Homo sapiens: one gene and its partner. The protein of the gene in region 1 interacts with the protein of each later gene in a biochemical or structural test. Each region holds a gene or a part of one and is shown on either strand. Other genes may lie near its edges.

What was found.
Region 2: the proteins of ERBB2 (region 1) and CRKL form a complex in vitro, tested with the Homo sapiens proteins (2 studies listed by BioGRID and IntAct, with this or other methods).

The regions. Positions count from the first base shown.
Region 1 is NC_000017.11:39,710,050-39,713,794, reverse strand, and holds part of ERBB2 (receptor tyrosine-protein kinase erbB-2 isoform a precursor), read right to left. Parts: intron 3,710-3,745; coding exon 3,594-3,709; intron 3,456-3,593; coding exon 3,314-3,455; intron 1,868-3,313; coding exon 1,748-1,867; intron 1,474-1,747; coding exon 1,347-1,473; intron 643-1,346; coding exon of another isoform or gene 526-642; intron 1-525. UniProt on the Homo sapiens protein: Protein tyrosine kinase that is part of several cell surface receptor complexes, but that apparently needs a coreceptor for ligand binding. Essential component of a neuregulin-receptor complex, although neuregulins do not interact with it alone.
Region 2 is NC_000022.11:20,915,364-20,919,108, reverse strand, and holds the start of CRKL (crk-like protein), read right to left. Parts: upstream 1,703-3,745; 5' UTR 1,175-1,702; coding exon 864-1,174; intron 1-863. UniProt on the Homo sapiens protein: May mediate the transduction of intracellular signals.

The sequences.
Region 1 (3,745 bases):
TGTGCACCACGGCGCCTGACCCTTTTTTTTTTTTTTCTTTTTGAGACAGGGTCTCACTCTGTCGCCCAGGCTGGAGTGCAATAGCGAAATCTCAGCTCACTACAACCTCCACCTCCCGAGTTCATGCAATTCTCCTGCCTCAGCCTCCCAAGTAGCTGGGATGATAGGCGCATGCCAGGAAGCCTGGCTAATTTTTTATATTTTTTAGTAGAGATGGGGTTTCACCATGTTGGCCAGGCTGGTCTTGAACTCCTGACCTCAAGTGATCTGCCTGCCTCGGCCTCCCAAAGTGCTGGGATTACAGGCGTGAGCCACCGTGCCTGGCCCCAATTCATTTCTTATTGAAGTATAACTTATATACAATAAAATGCACCGGGTGTGGTGGCTCATGCCTGTAATCCCAGCACTTTGGGAGGCTGAGGTGGGCGGATCACGACGTCAAGAGATCGAGACCATCCTTGCCAACATGGTGAAACCCCATCTCTATTAAAAATACAAAAATTAGCTGGGCATGGTGGCACACACCTGTAGTCCCAGCTACTCAGGAGACTGAGGCAGGAGAATTGCTTGAATCCAGGAGGCAGAGGTTGCAGTGAGCCAAGATCGTACCACTGCACTCCAGCCTGCTGACAGAGTGAGACTCTATCTCAAAAAATAAAATGAAATAAATAAAATGCACAGACTCTTATCACACAGTTTGATGAGTTTTGACAAATGGATTCGCTCATGTATCCACTACCCCAATCACTATACAGAGCATTTCTATTACCCCAGAAATGTCCTTGTGTGCCTCCCTTTTGAAGCCCCCCACCCTGGGGCAACCACCGTTCTGATCTCTCCCACCACAGAGTGGTTTTTTCGGTTCAGAGCCTCACATAAAGGGGATCAGACAGTATGGAATCTTGTCTCTGGCTTCTTTTGCTCAATGTAATGTTTCTGAGATTCATTTATGTTGTATCGGTAGTTCATTTCCTTTGGTTGCTAAGTAGAACTTCACCAAATGGATACACTGCCACTTGTTTATTCCTTCACCTAGTGATGCACATTTGAGTTATTTCCAATTTGGGGATATTTTGAATAAAGCTGCTATGAACTCAAAGGGAATTTTACTTTATCTAGATGGTCTGACCTCCATACAAGTCCTTGTTCACGGATAGCATGTCATTTACAAAAATAATCACCCCCACCCACCAAAGGCCCTGCTCCTCTGGTCTCCCATCTGCTTTCTTTGCATTCTTGATCCCCCCACTTCTGTCTCCTGCCATCCCCAAGAGATGCTGCCACATCTGGATCCTCAGGACTCTGTCTGCCCTGACACTGTCTCAGGTCATCGTGCCCACTCTTACCCATCAAAGCTCTCCGGCAGAAATGCCAGGCTCCCAAAGATCTTCTTGCAGCCAGCAAACTCCTGGATATTGGCACTGGTAACTGCCCTCACCTCTCGCAAGTGCTCCATGCCCAGACCATAGCACACTGAGGAGGTGGGGGTGGGTGGGGAAGGGGCCGTCTCAGCCTTCATACCGGGACAGGTCAACAGCCACATGAGCATCAGGGTCCGGGCCCCTCCCCACACTGACAGGGGATATAGGGACACTTGTAGGGCTGAGGGGGGCCAGGGGTAGAGAGTAGAAGGCAGAGACTAGGTCCCAAGAGGGTCTGAGGAAGGATAGGACAGGGTGGGCTGGGCCAGGCTGCATGCGCAGAGGGACAGGAACTGCAGCTGGCCTCGGGGGCAGTGAGTGGGTACCTCGGGCACAGGGCTTGCTGCACTTCTCACACCGCTGTGTTCCATCCTCTGCTGTCACCTCTTGGTTGTGCAGGGGGCAGACGAGGGTGCAGGATCCCACGTCCGTAGAAAGGTAGTTGTCTAAGGAGATCAGGAACATGTAGCCACATACCCTGGCCCTTCGTGCACCACCATGAGCAGCATTACCGTGCCCAGGCACAAGAAGAATAATATCAACCAATACTTAAATGCCCTACCACGCATCAGCACCTGACATCCATTTACCCCTCACAACAACCAGACGGGATCAGCACTGTGAGATTCCCATTTTGCAAAAAGGGAGACCAAAGCAGAGAGTTCTGTAAATTATTCAAGGTCATTGTGCTAGTGAGTGGAGGAGCGAGGATTTGAACCCAAATGGTCTGGCTCTACATTTTGTCCTCTCCCTAACACAGTCAGCCAGGATCTGAAGGCCCACTCCTGTTCCTGTGAGAGGAGGAAAGAGGTTCCCCAGGTCTGAGCCCAGTCCATAAACGCCCATCAGTAAATAGGTGATCTGTTAAATAAAACTGAGCTAGGCCAGGCACGATGGCTCATGCCTGTAATCCCAGCACTTTGGGAGACCAAGGCGGGTGGATCACTTGAGGTCAGGAGTTCGAGACCAGCTTGGCCAACATAGTGAAACTCCGTCTCTACTAAAAATACAAAAATTACCCAGCCATGGTGGTGCATGCCTGTAGTTCCACCTACTCAAGAGTCTGAGGCACAAGAATTGCTTGAATGCGGAAGGCAGAGGTTGCAGTGAGCCAAAATTGCACCACTGCACTCCAGCCTGGGCAATGGAGCGAGACTCTGCCAAAAAAAAAAAAGTCCGGGTGCAGTGGCTCACGCCTGTAATCCCAGCACTTTCAGAGGCCGAGGCAGGTGGATCGCCTGAAGTCAGGAGTTCGAGACCAGTCTGGCCAACGTGGTGAAACCCTGTCTCTACTAAAAATACAAAATTTAGCGAGGCATGGTGGTGGGCGCCTGTAATCCCAGCTACTCAGGAGGCTGAGACACGAGAATAGCACGAACCTGGGAGGCGGAGGTTGCAGTGAGCCGAGATCGCGCCACTGCGATAGAGCTAACTAAATTCGGTCTCAAAAACAAAACGAAAGGTAAAACTGACCTCACCAGGCTATAGAATAAAAGCTAACATTTAGGAGCACTTAGTACATACCAGGCACCGTTCTAAGAGCTTTACAAATATTAACTCTTTCAAATGTTATAACCATCTTATGCAGTTGGGACTATTCTTGCCCCCATTTTACTGATGAGGAAACTGAGGCACAGCAAGAGGGTCACGTGCCTACTAATTGATAGAGCTGGGTTTCAAACCCAGGCAGTCTGGCTCCCAAGTCTGGGCTCTTAGCTGCCTCTCCTTACTGCCACCTGCTCCACAGCTGTTGAAAGAACAAGGCAGCTCGGCAGGAACTGTCATGACCAGCTCTCAAAGCAAGATGCAGACAGTGCTCCCCATATGCTCCCATTTACAGAAACAAACCTCCCCACCAAAATGAGAAAACTGTGTTTCTCCCTGGCACTCACAGGGACAGGCAGTCACACAGCTGGCGCCGAATGTATACCGGCCCTCGGGATTGGGCATGGACTCAAACGTGTCTGTGTTGTAGGTGACCAGGGCTGGGCAGTGCAGCTCACAGATGCCACTGTGGTTGAAGTGGAGGCAGGCCTGGGGGGACAGGTGGCTGGCTTTCACTGTGCTGTTTTGCCCTGGTGTGCCAGGGGCAATAGGGCAGTACCAGGCAGGGTGCCCACCCCTTGCATCCTGGGGGGTAGAGCACATTGGGCACAAAGCAGAGGCACATACCAGGCAGTCAGAGTGCTTGGGGCCCGTGCAGCCGGCAGCACACTGCTCATGGCAGCAGTCAGTGGGCAGTGGCCCCTTGCAGCGGGCACAGCCACCGGCACAGACAGTGCGCGTCACTGTTGGGCAAAGGGCAGGATGAGGGCTGAGTGGCG
Region 2 (3,745 bases), on another chromosome or scaffold:
AAGCATTTTCATTTTTTTGACTGTTCCAAAGGCTGCAGTCCTGGAGTTCTTAACCTGGAGTTCAGAGATCTGGAGGGAGTACAAGCACCCGGGATGGTGTGCAAACTTGTGTGTACGTGCCTTTGGCGGGGAGGGGTGGGGGTGGGGGTGGGGGTGGGGTGGTGAGTGCTCGGCTATCTTCAGATTCTCAAAGAAGTCTATGGCTTAAAAACGGTTTTTGGCCGGGTGTGGTGGCTCACGCCTGTAATCCCAGCATTTTGGGAGACCGAGGCAGGCGGATCACGAGGGCAAGAGATCGAGACCATCCAGGCCAACATGGTGAAACACCGTCTCTACTAAAAATACAAAAATTAGCTGGGTGTGGTGGCGTGAGCCAGTAGTCCCAGCTACTCGGGAGGCTAAGGCAGGAGAATCGCTTGAACCCGGGAGGCGGAGGTTGCAGTGAGCCGAGATCGCACCACTGCACTCCAGCCTGGCGACACAGCGAGACTCCGTCTCAAAAAAAAAAAAAAAAAAGAGGTTTTTAGAAAAACCAACAAATCCCTGCATCAGTATTACACCCAGAGAAAGTCACGAAAGGCAAAAAGCGTGCATTTTAACTATGCAACCACCGTTAAACATTCAAAACGCATCCTCTTCACATTGAGAAACAGCCTCGTGAGAGGGAAAAAAAAAAAACGCATCCTCTTATCCAGTGACCCAGATCCTGACACTAGCTTTCTGTTAGGAAGGCCTTCTGGAAAATAATTTGGTTCAGAATGCGGGGAATATGGGTTCAAGCGCGCCCCACCCCCCTATACAAGCACTCTTCGACAGACCCGGTTCTCGACCTTCCTCCGCGGTCGGGGAGGGCTCTCGCGTACCTGGGCGCAGGCTCGATGAGGGTGGTGGTGTCCAGGTAGTGGATCTTGTAAAACTCCAGCAGGGCCGGCAAATGGTCAAATTCCTGGTCCCCGATCTTAAAACGGCGGTTGGGCAGCGAGTTGATGATGTAGTGGGAGACCCGCGAGTTCTCGGACACCGACAGCACATAGTCCCCAGGGCAGGTGGAAGAATCGCGGACGAGGAACATACCGTGGCGCTGGCCCTGGAGCCGGGTCTGCGCCTCCTGGCGAGACACCGGCCCCATATACCAGGCGGAGCGGTCCGAGGAGTCGAACCTGGCGGAGGACATGGTGTTGGACCGGGGACTCTGCGGCGGTAGGGGCGGCGGCTGTCCTCGCCTGCTCTGCACGCCTTAGCCCGGCAGACGGCTTTGGGGCCGAGGAAGGGCCTCTCGCACACCTCGAGGAGCGCTCAGAGGGCTGGGCCAGCACTTTCCTCTCGGCTCCGGGCCCGCAGCATCCTCCGACGCCGCCCGCCTGCTCCGGGGCCGCCACACGGAGAGAGCCGCCCGGGAATGCACGGCAGAGCCGGGGGGTCGGGGCAGGCAAACCCGAGCCGCAGCGGAGGCCACCCCGGGGTTCTCGGGCTGCTCGGCGTCCCAGGGGTGCCTCCAGTGACTCCCGGCCTGGAACGCGCCGGCGCCGCAGCTCGACGGGTCTTCACCGACCCCCGCCGTCACACGAGGCACCGAACTCGAAGGAGCGTCGCGCCTCCGGGGTGCTTTTGCCCAGCTTGTTCCCAATAGCCACAGCAACAAAATGGCGGACGCGGGAGAAGCGGCAGCCACCTCCCCCTCCGCTCAGCGCGCTCCGTCTGCGCACGCGCTGGGCCCCGGCTCCCGGCGGCCGCCGGGGCCCTCCCGTTACGTCACACAGCGCAGCCAATCAGGAGCACCGTCGCGACGATCAGGGTGGGCGCTGGTCGCGCCCGCTCCCGCGTTCCAGGAGGAGGCTGAAGAGGCGCCGGCGGTAGGCACTCTCTTCCTGGGCCGCTGCGCGCCGCTGGGGGCGCTGCGGCTGCCGGGTCTCCCAGCGCTGGCAGGAAAACAGCTGGAGCCGAGAGGGAACCGCGTTTCGAAAACCTGCTTCTGGGAACAAAGCGTAACGTGCAGGCTGAATCGCGGGCCAGGGAGGCGTGGCACTGAGGCGACCTGGCCAGCCTAGGGGCCTGAGGGAGGTCAAGGACTGACAGGTCCCGATGGGCCGAGGTGGCCCAGTAAAAGGATGAGCCCAGGGGCAGATGTGACCACCAGATAGGTGACTGACTGAATGACTCAGTCCCCAGGTGGCCTGATAGGCTAAGGAAGCCCTAGTGGCTACGTGACCCGCTAAATGGAGTGAGAGGAGAGAGAAGGTGAGGGTTAGATTGACTCAATTAAGTGGTCAAGGAAGTCCACAAGTGGGTAACCTGGCTATCATGGGCTCTGAACTGCTGAAAGTAAAATACAAATGCCTCTCGGGCGTGGCCCCGAGGCTTCCCCTGCCCCGGATTATGCCTGCTTCTGCCTATTTATTAATCCCTATTTGTTTTTGTTTGTTTTCTTTCTTTCTTTCTTTCTTTCTTTCTTTCTTTCTTTCTTTCTTTCTTTTCTTTTTTCTTTTCTTTTCTTTCTCTCTCTCTCTCTCTTCCTTTCCTTTCCCTTTCCCTTTCCTTTCCCTTTCCCTTTCCTTTCCTTCTTTCGACGGAGTCTCGCTCTGTCACCAGGTTGGAGTGCAGGGGCGCGATCTCGGCTCACTGCAACCTCCGCCTCCCGGGTTCAAGCGATTCTCCTGCCTCAGCCTCCCGAGTAGCTGGGATTACAGCTGTCCGCCGCCATGCCCTGCTAATTTTTGTATTTTTAGTAGAAACGGGGTTTCACCATGTTGGCCAGGCTGGTCTCAAACTCCTGACCTCAGGTGATCTGCCTGCCTCAGCTTCCCAAAGTGCTAGGATTACAGGCGTGAGCCACCGTGCCCAGCCTGTTTGTTTTATTTTGTTTGTTTTTGAGACAGGTTCTCCTTCTGTCACCCAGGCTGGAGTGCAGTGGAACTATCATGGCTCACTGCAGCCTTGATTTCCCCATCTCAAGGGATCCTCCCACCTCAGCCTTCCGAGTAGTTGGGACTACAGGCTCGCGCTGCCATGCCCAGCTAATTTTTTTGATTTTTTTTTTTTTTTTTTTTTTTTTGAGACGGAGTCTCGCTCTGTCGCCCAGGCTGGAGTGCAGTGGCGGGATCTCGGCTCACTGCAAGCTCCGCCTCCCGGGTTCACGCCATTCTCCTGCCTCAGCCTCCCAAGTAGCTGGGACTACAGGCGCCCGCCACTACGCCCGGCTAATTTTTTGTATTTTTAGTAGAGACGGGGTTTCACCGTTTTAGCCGGGATGGTCTCGATCTCCTGACCTCGTGATCCGCCCGCCTCGGCCTCCCAAAGTGCTGGGATTACAGGCGTGAGCCACCGCGCCCGGCCTTTGATTTTTAATAGAGACGAAATCTCACCATGTTGCCCAGGCTCGTCTCAGACTTTTGAGCTCAAACAATCCTCCCCCTCAGCCAAGATGTGAGCCACCCCGCCCAGCTATGTATGAAACAAGTTAATATATGCAAAGTGCTTAGAATAGTACCTGGCACATAGTAAGCATCATATGAGTCTTCCATTATTATTATTCAGTCATTCCCTGGGCCTCTACCTCTATACCCTAAAACCCTGAGCATACACCCTCAGTGGGTGGGTGAGGGTGGAGAGAAAAATCTCCACTTTGTTTTCTAACTACTTTTCACTGTCAGATTTACCACTTCATAATCACCTGCTCCTTGCCCAGCCCTTTTTTTTTTTTTTTATTCTGATACGGACTCTAGCTCTGTAGCCCAGGCTGGAGGAG